Homo sapiens: one gene and its partner. The protein of the gene in region 1 interacts with the protein of each later gene in a pairwise test. Each region holds a gene or a part of one and is shown on either strand. Other genes may lie near its edges.

The links.
Region 2: the proteins of SEMA3B (region 1) and RBPMS2 interact in binary tests that used the Homo sapiens proteins (3 or more experiments, as listed by UniProt).

What each region holds. Positions count from the first base shown.
Region 1 is NC_000003.12:50,264,673-50,272,209, reverse strand, and holds the start of SEMA3B (semaphorin-3B isoform 1 precursor), read right to left. Parts: upstream 3,064-7,537; 5' UTR 2,970-3,063; coding exon 2,861-2,969; intron 2,084-2,860; coding exon 1,926-2,083; intron 1,778-1,925; coding exon 1,715-1,777; intron 1,321-1,714; coding exon 1,201-1,320; intron 1,123-1,200; coding exon 1,029-1,122; intron 850-1,028; coding exon 730-849; intron 1-729. UniProt on the Homo sapiens protein: Inhibits axonal extension by providing local signals to specify territories inaccessible for growing axons.
Region 2 is NC_000015.10:64,751,494-64,758,815, reverse strand, and holds part of RBPMS2 (RNA-binding protein with multiple splicing 2), read left to right. Parts: intron 1-7,177; coding exon 7,178-7,255; intron 7,256-7,322.

The DNA of each region.
Region 1 (7,537 bases):
GCCTCCAACTCCTGGGCTCAAGTGATCCTTCCATCTCAGCCTCCTGACTAGCCAGGACTACAGGTGTGTGCATGCCACTGCCCCCAGCTAATTTTATTTTATTTTTTGTCTTGCTTTGTAGCCCAGGCTGGTATGAAACTCCTGTCTTCAAGCAATCTGTCTGCCTCAGCCTCCCAAAGTGCTGGGATTACAGGTGCAAGCCATTGTGCCCAGCCCCCATGACTCTTAGAATAAATGACTCTGGCCCCTGACAGTCCAGGCCCCCTTTTCATTGCTAGCTCTGCAAGTCTATTCCTTTGCTTGTTCTTGCATCCAGGCCTTTGCACTAGTTGCTCCCTCTGCCTGGAATGCTCCCTCTGCCTGGAATGCTCATCCCTAAATTTTGCTGGCTAGCTGTCTTGTGCTTGGGAATTAGCTCATACTCCCCTCAGCACAGCGGCTTCCTTTACCCAACCCCCTCCAGCCACCCAGTCTCCTTTTCCCTTCCTCCCTTGTCTCTCTCTGGCCTCAAGGCCATTGGACTTGATCTTATCATGTATGTGATCTGTGAACTCAAAGAGGTCACGGTCATACCTGTCTTGTCTGTCTCTGTGACGCCAGTGCCTGATTAAGGAGGGTATTTGGTAAGACCTGGCCACACCCACTGCTCACTTACTTTATGGGCCTTGCTTGGCACCTGCCCTGTGGGAGGGTGACGACCTCTACCCACCAACCCCACCAGCCTCTCACCATTGAGCCAGCGGGAGTCGTGTGGCTCTGTTCGGAGACTTGGACGTTGCCCTAGGCTGCGAAAGATGGTAAAGTCTCGTCCCATGAGGTCTGCTGCCACCCCTGAGTATAGCTCCTCCCCTGCAGACAGAGCAAGGGCCACTCAGGCAAATGGAGGGCTCTTGGGGCAGGAGGGCCTGGGGAGCTCTGGGAGTGAGTGAGGTTATGGGGGATTCCCTGGAGCTCTTGGGGGTCTTGGGACTTTGTGAGGTTCTAGAGTTTCTAAGGGGTTCTCTTGGGGCCTTAGCCCTTGGACTCACCCACCAGCACGGAGGCAGCCCGATGCCTGGGGTCATAAGGACTCTTCCCCTTGCCATCCTCTATCCTTCCTGGGTCCAGCCGGAGGACGGGCTCCTGGGAGGTGTGGCAAGTTGTGACTACCAGGCCCTTCTTACCCTCCTGACCTCCCTCCCTGCCTAGATCCGGCCTTACCTCTGCCCGGTGGCCCACTTCCACAAAGGCACAGGTTGGGTGGAAGGCTCCCGTGCCACAGGCCAGCAAATGGGTGCGGTTGTAGGCATGCAGCAACTTCACGAAGTTCATGCACTCAGTCTAGTAGGGTTGGAGGTGTGAGGCTTCCCCCAGGGACGTAGCCTTAAGAGGTCCCAGCTCACCAGTGGCATCCTCACCCCTCCCTCTCTTCGGCATCAGCCCAGGCAAGTACTAACATGGGCTACAGGGACCTGGGGGCCCTTGCTGACCAGCCCAGGCCTCACGAGGGTGGGTGTCTGGGGAAGCACAGGCCTGCAAAGCCTCCCATGACTCAGAGGCACCCCAGAAGAATTACACGAGCCCCCACCCTGACTCACCACCCCCAGACCTCAGCCACCTCGACCTCCCTGCCCTCATCCCAGCCAGAACAGGCAGGCCTCTGTTTTAGCCCTGCCCTGTCTCTGGGGTGAGGGGCTGACCCTCCCCACTCCCGGCCCGGGCAGCTGGCACTCACACCAATGTCCTTCCCTGCCCAGTTGCACTCCTCTCGCCATTCCACAGGGGCCGGCCAGGCCAGCTATCGGGAGGTTGGGGGAGAGGGGACACAGGTCAGGAACTTGGGATATTCTCTACCTCAGGGAGCCATTCCTCTGGGTCTCTCCAGGCTGGAGTGGGGTCCCAGGGCTCCTTCCCTGGGGAGTGCTGGGGTTGGGAGTCCCTGGCACCTTCTTGGCCCGCTTGCTGATGTTGTCCAGGTTGAGGGAGGCCACATGGTTCTCGGCACCCACAAACAGGCGTCCACGCTCCTCATCCACCAGCAAGGCCTGGTAGCAGCAGGTTCGCTCCAGGCTGAAAGTCTGGAGACCATGCCAGGCCTGGAGCTCTGCAGGGCAGGACACTGCTGATGACTCGCCAGCCATGCTGGAAGCCTCCCCCAGGTCCTGCCTGGTGGTGACTCTATCGGCCAAGGTTGCCATTAGGACCTGGCCTGTACACATGTGAGTTTACATGTGTGTGAGTTTACACACGCAAACCCAAGCCCACCCAGGTGCACGTGTGGAGCTGCCAGGGTAGGTGGTACATCCCCCCAGGAAGAGGAAGGCAGGTTGAACTTGGGCATGCTCAGACAGGTGGTGTCTCCAGGCGGGCGCACTGGGAGGCAAGGCTTATGGACACCAGAGTCCTGGGGGAGACTGGCATGCAGGGATGGCCAGAACCCCAACTCCCAAAAGTCAGGCTGAGAGTTCCTTTCCTGCCACTCCACCACCAGCCTGAGCTCAGCAGAACTGCCTATTCACTGCCACTGCCCAGGGGCCACCCTCCTATACAGGAGGCATGAGAAGGGGGCTCTGACTTCCCTGTTGCTCTGCTGAAGGAGTATCGCCTTGTTGGGGGTACTGAACGGAACAGAGACAAGGTCTGTTGCTGTGGGGACAGGAGGGGTCTTCCTGAGAAAGCACGAAGAGAATGTGGGCAGAGGCTGGGGGCTGAGGCCCGGACAGGGTTAACTGGAGGTGGCCTGAGAGTGCCCACTAATCCTACCAGAGTCTGGTGACAGGCACGCACATGGGGCAACAGCCAACACAGAGCCCCCTGGCCATACGGGGACCCTTTCCTGCCCACCTCAAGCTGGGCCCTCCCGCCTGCCAGGTGCACCTACCTTGGAAGGAGAGCCGAAGGCGTGGGGGGCTGGGGGCGGCACTCCCCAGCCCCACTGCCCAGAGCAGGGCCAGGCCCGGGATCACGGCGGCAGCCCCGGCCCGCCCCATCTCAGCAGCTCAGGGTGCTCAGGGTTCAGCGGGTGTGTGTGTGGAGGAGCCTTGAGCTGCCCTGGACTCTGCCCCAGGATCTGGAAGAGGAGTCAGCAGTGAGGGCGAGGGCGGGAGGCTAGGGGGGGAGTCCCCAGGGATCAGATTACAGCCCCTAGGGGAAAGAGGCTGGGGGGTCGCATTCCACTTCCGAACCCTCCCCTCCGAGGGTGCCCCGCCTGGCCACAATCACAGACACACCCACGCCACTGGGCACACCCTCAGGGTCACCCTGCACTGGCAAGCCCGCCTCACCACGTCACCCTTCCCAGTAATCTCCTCTCTTGTATACACACTCACAGACATTAATTCACAATGTGCCACCCACTTCATGCCAGCCTAGACCTGGGAGGAGGGATACTGGGAGACATAGACAAGGTCCCCATGTGAAAGGGGACAGAGTGCCAACAAGGAATCAGATGGATGCAGAGGGTGCCAAGTGCAATGAGCAAAACAAGCCAGTCAAAAGAGTGAGAGTGACAGGAGGGGGTCAGGCCTCTGGAGGTGGCAGTGTCCCCACAGTCCCGCAGAAAAACACAGAGACACTTTTGAGGCTGGAGCCAAGGGTGTGGGTGCCTGTGAATGTGTTTCCGAGTGTCCCCTTGTGATGTGCGCATGTGTGTAGTGTGTATGTGCATGTGTGTGCACATCTATGTGCAAATATATAGTGTGTCATATTGCACATGTGTGGATATGGGTTGGTGTGCACACACATGTGGCACTGTGCAATCCATGCAGTACATATGTGTGATATGTGCATATTTTGCACACAGATGTGTTGCACATTTGTGCATGTGCAAACGTGTGCACCCATAAGAATAGACATGTCTCTGGGCATGCAAGTGAGCAAATCCAACTGCAGCATCAATCACTCCATTCCTCAGAGGGAGAAGTGCTACCCAGGAGACCCAAGACCTGGGCAGAAGCCTCAGCCTCTGACTTGGGGACTGCTCCCAACCCAGCTGAAGCAGCCTCTGCATTTGAGCTTGAGGGCTCTCTCTCCACACCCCTGAGGAATCAAAGAGGGGCAAGGTGAGGCAGCCCTTCATTTGCACCCCAGCCTCCTGGCCTCGCTGAGCTGGCCTTCCCTCTCAACGCCTCCACAGCCTCTCTGAGCCTCTCCCTTCACTTCTCTCACCCCTTGAGTTCTTCCCCATCTTTGAGCCCCTTCACTCTAGGAGCCAGACACCTCCCCCTGGCCCTCAGCTGGGGCAAAGACCTGGCTGCTATGCCCACCCTCCTTCCCAGGGGTCAGCTGGGCAGGTGCTGGACACAGGAGCCCAGGGAGTGGGACAAGGTTCCAGGTGGGATTAAGCAAGTGGAGCAGCTGCTGAGGCAGGTTCCAGGCCCCTCCACCCACACTCCTGCCCAGCTCCTGGCCCCATCCCAGGCCAGGACCCCCACCTCCCTCCTTCCCTCCGCTGACACTTGCCGCTGCCTCTTCTCAGGTTCTAGAGGTCTTCCAGGCCAACACTGGCTGCCTTCTCACACTCCACCGAGGACTTCCGCAGCAGCATCTCTCCACTCTGGCCCCTTCCCACCCTGGGGCCGCTGGGGACCCTCTGACGGCTCCTTTAAGAAGCAGCCCCCGCCCCCACCAGGCCAGCCACCGCCCCACGCACCGCCCGCCGTGCCGTAAAGTTTAGAGGGCGGATCGGGTGACCGGGCAGGCAGCCGGGACCAGCTGGAGACGGCAGCCAGGCGGGAGTGGAATGGGCACAAGGGAGGGGCTGGTAGGGACGACCCCTCCCATATTGGGCCTTAAAGCAGAAGGGTGCCCCAGGTGGCGGTCCCAGAAGCCAGGTGGCCAGCCAAGGCAAGGGAGGAAGAAACCCCAGCTCCAGGGGCTCAGCAGGCAAAGGGAATCACTGAGTGGGGGCACCACCCGTGGACTCCAATATCTCAACCTCTCCCTCCACAGGTGGGGAGCTGTGGGGAAAGATAATGGGGAGCTCAGCTGCCACCTCAGTTCCCAGGGACCGGCTGGGGTGGCCGGGCAGCTGGAGGTCAGGGGAGGGGCTCTCAACTGGAGGTCGGATGGGCCCTCAGGACCCAGTCCCCATCCTTCCTCAACACTTGGGCCACTTAGTACTTCAGTGGCCTGGCCAGCAGTGGCTTCTACCATGACAGCCAGATAGGGGAGGGAGAGGAGGGCAGGAGAGGGGCAGACGCAGGAGGAGCAGCAAATCTCACTTCTGCACCACAGGGCGGGGCCCATCTGGAGTCCGCCATCCTGGACAGGTAGCTTTGCATCTCTGCTGAGAGGTTGGGGGGCAGACCATGTGACCTCCCTTCCTCTGGCTTCTCTTTCTAGGTTGGAGGTGGGAGGAACAACCCCCACCAAACCCAGAGCCGAAAACTGAGGGAGTTTTACAGACAGGACGGAGCTCCTGCACCTCGGAGCCTCAGTTGGGAATGACCTGGGGTCTTGTCCTGAAGCTGAGTCTGGTGAACGTGCCCCATTTGTAACATGAGGGGTACTTCTCTGGAGGGACTGTATGTTGACAGTGGCAGAGTGGAGCCCTGAAGTCCACCTGAGTGAATATACCAGGGCTTGAGAATGGGCTTTGATCCTTCCATCCCCGCAAAAGGCATTTTCCTACCACCTCCCAAGGCTGATGGGGCAGTGTGGGCATTTCAAGTGTTGCAGTTCTGTTGCCCAGCCCTGGATGCCTCCAGCCAAGCAAGGACAGAGGTGGGGGGCACATCTCCAAGTCCCCTGGAAGTGGAAGTGGGGCTATGCCCCTCCTTCCTGAGCCTGAGGACCTGGTATACCTGGCCTGGCCTGGCCAGCTGGCAGGTAAATAACAGGGGCCAGTGGGAGCCGCAGGGCCCTTCAGGAGGGCAAGTGGAAGGACAGATCCCTGCCTGGGCTCGTGGGCTTCCTGGATGTGGCCTTTTCCTACTCCAGGAGTAGCTGCCTCTAGCCTTAGAGGACCTGGGCAGGCTCTCCTGGCTCCATGCAAGCAGACAACATTCTTTGGCTGTTTACAGCTTTCCACCCAAGCAGCCAGGATCAGCAAGTGCCTCAGAGGCTCCCATCCACTCCCACTGTGCCCCCATAGGCCCTCACTGCCTTATGTTTTTCCAGGCCCAGGGGCCCTGTCTCTGTTTCATCACCCCGCACCTTCCTCCACCTGTGTTCACTCTGGGAAACGGTATCAGAAACCCCCCCGCCACCGCCATTATCTTTCCAATAGCCTGGGAGTCAACCCCCAGCCAAAAGGACTAGACTGTCTCTGTCCCCATTGAGTGCTGTGCCCTGTCCTCTGTCCTCTAGATGTGTACCCTCCCTTGAGTAGGAATGGAGGTCTCCAGGGATGGGAGGTCAAGTTGTCCCTGATTCCACATGGTCCCCTTTCTGTTCCTCAGCCCCAGGTCCAGTGTGCCAGGCCATGGGTAGGGGCCCCCATGGAGGTCAGCACTCCAGGAGCAAGGTCACTGCCTGTGGGTCACACTGGGGGCTGGAACTCCTCGAGGATTCTGGAATCAGGCAGCCTGAGCCTGAGTCTCAACAGAATGGGGCAAACCAGGCAAGGCAGCTGGGGTCCCTTTTCCTGCCTGTACTCCTACCCTGGACCTCTCTCTTTTGAGGGAGCTTCCATGGGCAGAGACCTGCCTGGGTCCTTGCTCTGGGGCTGCCTGTCAGTGGCATGGCCTACCACGGCCTTGGCTTTTCCTTCTGGAAAAACCTGGATTGTTGTGCCAAATCTCAGCACCTGCCTCCCCACCCCTGGCCACCAGCTGGGCCTGCCCCTTTGCCCCTGCCTGGACTCCGGGTGGTGTGGTTGGGGTGGGACACCCATCTGAGGAAGGTTGTGGCAACCCTCCCAGTGCAGCCTGGACTGGATGGGATCTTGGGCGCCCCACTCACACCTGCTTTAGTCATCAGGGCTTGTGGCTCCAACGTCACAACTCTTCCTTGTTCTGGCCACGTAGGTACCAGGTCATGCTGCCCAGAGGACTTAGGCACAGTGGGGGCAGGCGTGGGCGGCCATAGGATCATCACCTGAGGCCTAACTTCCCAGACACTCTAAGGCCCTGCCCCAGGGGCATCTCCTGGGGAAGCGTCTGCAGGCATGTCCTCACCCCAGCCTGGTCTCCACATTCCCAGGGAACCCTGGCCCACCTTTTTTGAAAGATTAGCTCCTCCCCTCCTTGCCTGTTCCCCTTCCCTTCTGAGGGCCCTGTCAGAACTGAGATGGAGGTGCTGAGGGAGGGGCTACCAAGAACCCTGGGCCTTTGGCTGTGGCCCTACCCCCGCCTGCCCCACCCCTGCCCTCCCCTCCTGCACATTCCTCCCAGGCTGAGGTCAGCCCTTCTGGGATGCGGGAGCCCCCCCAACCAGCCACATCACAGCTCTTCCCTCACTCCTGTTTTCCTCATTGCCCAGCAGGGAGGAGTGGGAGGAGAGGGGGCTGGGGGCGGGGCCTCCCTCTCCCTCCCTCCTCTGGAGCCCGGCAGGGTGGAGGGGGCTATGCCAGGAATGCTGGAAAGTGGACTCTGAGGGCACACTGCACTCATGAACA
Region 2 (7,322 bases), on another chromosome or scaffold:
GCAAAGATCTAGAGGACTCCAGGAAGTGCCAGTAAGTGATAGCCTGTGGGGTCCATGGACCCCTCTCCCACCCTCCCACTCCCTGTGACTCTAGAGGCAAGACTTGCCTCAGAAAAGAGCAGCTCTGGGTGCCTCCAAAGCTTTGCTGGGCAGAGGCAGTTGTGCCAAAAGTTGGTCAGTTCCCCTAGGTAGGCCTGGCACTGGCTGGGACCTCCAGCAGGGCTGGGTCTGCTCCTGTGGGGTCATGAGAGCCACACAGCCATGTCTGTGGTATTCTGTATGGGTACACAACCCTGGCCACGTTCCTTGCCTATATTGGTGCTTGCAGCAGGTTCCACCAGAAGGGTTGTTCCTCAACAAGTATCTTTGACTGAGTTCTCAGAATCATCCTCCATCCGTTCCCCCGGTCTCCCCCATACCTGCTCCATGTGACTACAGGTGTACCTTCCAGCTGTGCTGAGGACCTGACTGTGCTCCCAGCATTTCTGCTCTTACTTGCCATAAGGGTGACTTTTTTGGAAGGGCTGTGGTTGCTCTTCACATTTTGGGACAGGAACCCTTGGGTTGCTGGATGCTTCTGCAGAAGGGATGAGAGTATGGAAAAGGGCCCAAGTGAATGCGTTTGGTGCCTTCCAGCAGCCTGAGATTGTGAGAACCACCCCTGTGCACTCTTTAAATGCTTTAAAACGTTTTGTGTATGTGCTGAATTCTTGTAATAAACCCATGGAATAGGCAGGACATGAGTTATTTGGTTGAACTTTCCTTGTCATCAACTAGTTGTCGGTGCCTGAATCCTTGTCTGCATCTAACCTTTTATTTTTTATTTTTGTTTTTTAGAGGTAGGGTCTTGCTCTGTTGTTGCCCAGGCTGGAATTCAAGTGGTGCAATCATGACTCACTGCAGCCTTGAATTCCTGGGCTCAAGCGATGCTCCCACCTCAGCCTCCCGAGTTGCTCAGACTTCAGGTGCCTTCCACCACGCCTGGCTGATTTTTTGTGGGGGGGGATAGGGCCTTGCTATATTGCCCAGGTTGGAGCATCCAGCCTGTTCCTGAATGTTTCCCCTGTTACCCTGACGTAGGTACCACAATGGTCCCCTGTACTGGCCTGAGACACAAGACTAGTTGGCTGGACCTTGGAGAAGTAACTGCATGTCTCTGTTCCTGCCATTGCTGAAAGATCCTGGCTGTGCCATCAGCTTGCCTTGTTACCCTGTTCTTGGCTTCAGTTTCCCCATCTATAAAACGAAGGGGTTGAACTAGCTGATCTCTGTGGTGTCTTCTATTTCGGGCATTACCTCCTCTGGGGAAGAGAAAAACTAAAGAATCTAGTGACCACCTTAGGACATCCTACCCACATTACCAGCTTCAGTAGACAACCTTAATAAGTGGCTCATGGCACCTGATGAGGGAGATCCTTGTGCAGGTAAATGCAGGAGCCCTAAATGAAGCCAGCATTTTATTGCTCTCACAAGTAATGGGGAGAGTAAGGTGAGCTCTTAGTCTTGGAGGTAGATGGTGTTTGTGTTGTGAAGATGAAACTGAGGCCAGGCATGGTGGCTCATACCTGTAATTCCACCACTTTGGGGAGGCCAGGGCAGAAGGATTCTCTGAGCCCAGGAGTTCAAAACCAGCCCAGGCAACATAGTGAGACCTCATCGCTACAAAAATGGAAAAGCTAGCCAGGCATTGTGGTGCACACCTATAGTCCCAGATACTCTGGAGGCTGAGGCAGGAAGATCTCTTGAGCCTAAGAGTTTGATGCTGCAGTGAGCTATGATAGCGCCACTGCACTCTAGCCTGGGAGACAGACCGAGACTCCATTTCCAAAAAAAAAAAAAAAAAAATGAGGCCGGGCATGGTGGCTCGCACTTATAATGCCAGTACTTTGGGAGGCCAAGGCGGGCGGATCACTTGAGGTCAGGGATTCCTGACCTCAAGGAACTCCTTGAGGTGAGGAGACCAGCCTGGCCAACGTGGTGAAACCCTGTCTCTCCAAAAAAAAAAAAAAGAGCTGGGCGTGGTGGCAGACGCCTGTAATTCCAGCTACTTGGGAGGCTGAGGCAGGAGAATCATTTGAACCCAGAGGACAGGGTTGCAGTGAGCAGAGTTTGTGCCACTGCACTCCAGCCTGGGCAACAGAGCGAGACTCCATAAAAAAAAAAAAAAGAAATGAAAAATAAATAAAAATAAGAAACTGAGATTCGGAAAGATGAAGTGGCTTCCTCAGGCCAAGCATGAAGCTAGGAAGCAAACTCCAGTGTAACTAAGGCCTGTTCTCTTTGCCTTTTTTTTTTTTTTGAGACAGGGTCTTGCTCTCCTGCCCAGGATGGAGTGCAATGGTATGATCTCGGCTCACTGCAACCTCCATCTCTCCAGGGTTCAGGGGATTCTCGTGCCTCAGCCTGCCAAGTAGCTGGGACTACAGGTGTGCGCCACCACACCCAGCTAACTTTGTATCTTTAGTAGAGACGGGGTTTCATCATGTTGGCCAGGCTGGTCTCAAGCTCCTGACCGCAAGTGATCCACCCTCCTTGGCCTCCCAAAGTGCTGGGATTACAGGTGTGAGCCACCATGCCCGGCCCTCTCTGCCATTTATGGTATCGTTCTGCCATGCTGGATCGTATCTGGTCTCTGGCTGTGAGTTTCTTCTCTGCAGGGACTGAGGTGTGTAGAGATGGGGGAGGTCTCCAGTGCTTAGACCTGACTCTAGGGACATTGGGAGATGGAAATGTTTTGAGGCTTGGTTCCTGTCTCTAGGGCTTTCTGTAGTCAAGGTGAGGGGTACCTCAGACTGCTGGGAACTATAAGGCGAGGGGTCCTAACGGCCACTGTGGGGCTTCAGAGGAAGGAAAGGGTAGTTGAGGACTCCGGAAAGACCTGAAGGCTGGATACCTTTAGTTAAGGAGTGAGGAAGGGGTGAGCCGAGGGGGCAGTGCAGGCAGCCTTGTGGACGCTTGTCAGGGCCCTGGAGTGGGTGGGCTGGGCGGGCTTGATGGAAGCAGGTGTTGGGCGGCTTTGGAACCTCTTGTTCCTCCCTACATGTGGCTGGTCAGCCTGCGGAGCCCACGCTTCCCCTGCTCCTGGTTTGCCAGTTTCCCCTTTTTCTGCCCTCCTCACTCTGGTGTGGCTGTCATCCTAAACAAGTGTCATACTGAGTGGATGGATGGCAGCACTTACCCACCCATGACGCTGATGAGGCTGCCCTGTGCCGCTCCCCCTGCCCTCACAAACAGCAGAGTCAGGGTGCCTGGTCTCAGGAGCCCTGCTCCTCCGTGAACTCAGCTGTGTGCCGTTGACAAATCACCAAGGCTTTCTGGGTCTCAGTCTCCCTGTCTGTACAAGGGGCTGGGCTTTAAGATGTCATCTGCTGGGGTGGCTGGAATCTAGTAGGAACCAAGGCGGGTGTTTGGGAATCACACTTGCTGTGATTTAGCCTCCCGGACTGCTCCCCACAGAGCATCTGTGCTCAGGCAGACGGGCCCACCAGCTCATCCGTGACTGCCTTGACCACCTGAGAGGTGGCCAGGGACAGGATGGGAGCTGTGGGGTAGCCTTTTGGACTCTATAGAACCTGAAAGATGGAACCCTGAGGAAAAGGGTCATCGGACCCAGAGGGAATCCTGGCTGGAAACGAGTCTTGAGCCAGGATAAGGAAACAGCCCCTACACTCACCCCACCCTACCCCAAGCGGAAACTCTGTGCTGAGAACTTGCTATTTAAGAGGCCTCTGGGGAGGTCTGGCCAGAAAGGAGCCATTTGAGGGAGGGTTTAAAATTAGCCTGGGTGAAATGTGTGGCCCCTGGGGAGAACTGAAGCAGAGGTTTCCGTGGGTCTGCTCTGGTCTGGGTCTTTGACCCAAATCATGTCCTGCTTTCCTGGGGAGGAAGGGGAGGAGAGAAGGGAGTGGTACCGATCTAGGTCCCTCCATCAGGACGCTGGTGGCTGCACTCTTGGCCCATCCTCTGGGGTGAGGTGTTGGAGGCAGACCCTGGGCTACCCAGAGGGCTTGGTGCTCGGGTCCTGTCGTCCTTTCCCAGCACCCAAAGCACCCATCACCTCTGCCAGGCTGGGCACGTAGTAGGAAGACTTGGGTTTTGGGTTTTTTTTTTTTGAGACGGAGTTTTGCTCTTGTTGCTCAGGCTGGAGTGCAGTGGGCCAGGCTGGGCATGTAGTAGGAAGACTTGGGTTTTGGGTTTTTTTTTTGAGACGGAGTTTTGCTCTTGTTGCCCAGGCTGGAGTGCAGTGGTGTGATCTCAGCTCACTGCAACCTCTGCCTCCCGATTCAAGTGATTCTCCTACCTCAGCATCCCTTGTAGCTGGGATTATAGGCATGCGCCACCACACCCAGCTAATTTTGTATTTTTTAGTAGAGACGGGGTTTCTCCATGTTGGTCAGGCTGGTCTTGAACTCCCAACCTCAAGTGATCCACCCACCTCGGCCTCTCAAAGTGCTGGGATTACAGGTGTAAGCCACCACGCCCAGCCTTTTTTTTCTTTTTTTCTGAGATGGAGTCTCACTCTGTCGCCCATGCTGGAGTGCAGTGGTGCGATCTTGGCTCACCACAACCTCTGCCTCCTGGGTTCTAGTGATTCTCTTGCCTCAGCCTCCGAAGTAGCTGGGACTGCAGGGATGGGCCACCACACCTGGCTAATTTTTTGTATTTTTAGTAGAGATGGGGTTTTACCACGTCGGCCAGGCTGGTCTCAAACTCTTGACCTCAAGTGATCCACCCGCCTCAGCCTTCCAAAGTGCTGGGGTTACAGGCATGAGCCACTGCACCTGGCCGAGGCCTGGGTTTTGAGTTCCAGGTCTGCTGCCTTTAAAGAACAAGCCATGTGACCTTGGACAAGTCACTTCTGCTTGGGGATTCACACGCACACCTCAAGGCCCTTACATCAAAGGGCAGAGAGGCCTGCTGGGCTCAGGTCAGGAGCTCGGTTTCACCCATCCTGGATCCTTGGCTATCCAGACCCCCAGATGCTGCCAACAACAAAGCAGGATTCGAGTGGTGTCTCCGTGGGACATGAGCTGCCAGGGCTGTGAGGTGTGAGGTGCCATCACCCCAACCCCGGGCACAGAGGCTGGTATAGTGGTGCCTCTACTGAGGGGAAGACGTGTCCCAAGGGAGAAGATGCGTCCCAAGCGGCCCGAGATTCTGCTGAATGGGCTTGGCAAAAGCTCACGTGAGGTTTGTCTTCACCATGGCTGAGAGTCAAAGTTTAAGAGACAAAGTTTGTCTTCACCGTGGCTGAGAGTCATTCTTGCGTGGGTGGGAGTGGTGACACCAGTAACCAGCAGCTATCCTGGCTGATTTCCTTTGACATTCTTGGCTCTGTTGAGTTCTCTGGGTGCATTGGGTGTAGTTTTACCTAACATTGCTCCAGCTTCCTGAGACAAGCCACTGATAAAAGCCATCGTCTCAGAAAGGCTGTTGTCTGGGGTCAGCGGGCCATCACTAGAGAGCGGAGCAAGTTCTTTGGTACCTCTCAAGAAGGGGATGTGGCCCACTGTAGGGCAACTTAATGCTTTCAAGAATGGCCGCGTGATGGGGTGAGGCATGTGAACTTCTAAAATCTGCAGCGGTGAGTTCAGAAGACCTGTGCTTGGCTTCGCAGGAGGAGATGTGGCCCAGAGCAGGAGTCAAGCGTGTAGGGACGCTCTGCTTGTTCACATTTTTCATTATTCAGGAAGCCACGGTTTCAAAAAATGTTTTGAATGGATCTAAGCTATGGAAAGTCTCCCCTTCCCCATCACAATTTTTGGCTGATCAGGGCTTGCTAGTTTAGCATCCGGTGCCAGCAGCGTTTAAATAGCAGCAGTGGCTACAGTCACAGGATGGACACCTAGTGTTTAGATCTGGCTTGTAACCATGTTGGGGGCAATGCTCAAAATTCACAGCATCAGCCGGGCACGGTGGCTCAATCCTGTCATCTCAGCACTTTGGGAGGCCGAGGTGGGCGGATCACTTGCGGTCAGGAGTTCGAGACCAGCGTGACCAATGTGGTGAAACCCCATCTCTACTAAAAATGCAAAGAATTAGCTGGGCATGGTGGTGCATGCATGTAATCCCAGCTACATGGGAGGCTGAGGCAGGAGAATCGCTTGAACCGGGGAGGCAGAGGTTGCAGTGAGCCGAGATGGCGCCACTGCACTCCAGTCCGGGTGACAGCAAAACTCCATCTCAAAAAAAAAAAAACTCACAGCATCAAATGCTTCACCTGAAGCTGGCAAGATCTTAGCGTGTTCTTCAAAACTCAGCATAATGGTTTTGACTGTTTACCCATTACCCTGTTCAGTCAACATTTAGTACCATCACCATGCTAAGAGCAGGCAGAGAGGCAGGAGTATAAGGTGTTTCTTGACATTGAAGGTCCCACATCTCGTGTAGGAGCAGGAGATGGATGAGAAAGTGCCGGGCCCTCTGTTGAAATCACTGCAGGGGATAGTGGGCATGGGACTCTGTTTCCTTTACATCTTTGCTCCTCCCCTCGACCAGACTGGAGGCTCTCTACCAGGAGGCCATGGGTATCATCTAGAAAACAGATACTTTTTTGTCTGAGGGGCCAGTGGTGCAATGGATTAAAAAAATAGATACATTTTTACATGTACATTTTTGGGGGGTCAGGCACTGCAGCTTTCTTCAGATTTTTAGAGGAGGCTTTGGTTTGAAAAGGCATACCGATTAGCATGGCGTGGTGGTGTACCCCAGTAATCCCAGCTACTCAGGAGGCTGAGGCAGGAGAATCTCTTGAACCCAGGAGGTGGAGGTTGCAGTGAGCTGAGATCACGCCACTGCAGTTTAGCCTGGGCAACAGAGTAAGACTCTGTCTCAAAAAAAAAAAAGAAAAAAAAAAAGGCATGCTGGGCTGGGTTTGTACCCTTATCAAACAGGGCTTTCTTTTTGCCTCTGTTCACCAGCAGACTCAGTCTGTGTGCAGAGGCATCCGGCAGACGCAGCACGATGCCTCTGGGATGTACCCAGAGAAAGGAAAGGGCTTTGAGAAATTGAGTGCTGTGAAACAATGTTAATTTGCCTTGGGTATCCAAGGAGGCCCAGGAAAGGCTGAATTCCTCTAAGCTCTAGAAGGATTCCAGTTGCCTGCCTGAAGGAAGCGCTGTTGTCATCCCTGTCCGTCTTGGGCAGCCTGGCCCTGATCACTGGTCTCTGTCTCCAGGTCCGGACACTGTTTGTCAGCGGCCTCCCTGTGGACATTAAACCCAGAGAACTCTACTTGCTCTTCCGGCCGTTCAAGGTGAGTCAGGACCCAGCCGCCCCCTGGGTAGAGCCTGGGACCCTGGAGAAGCAGCGGGAGTGAATCT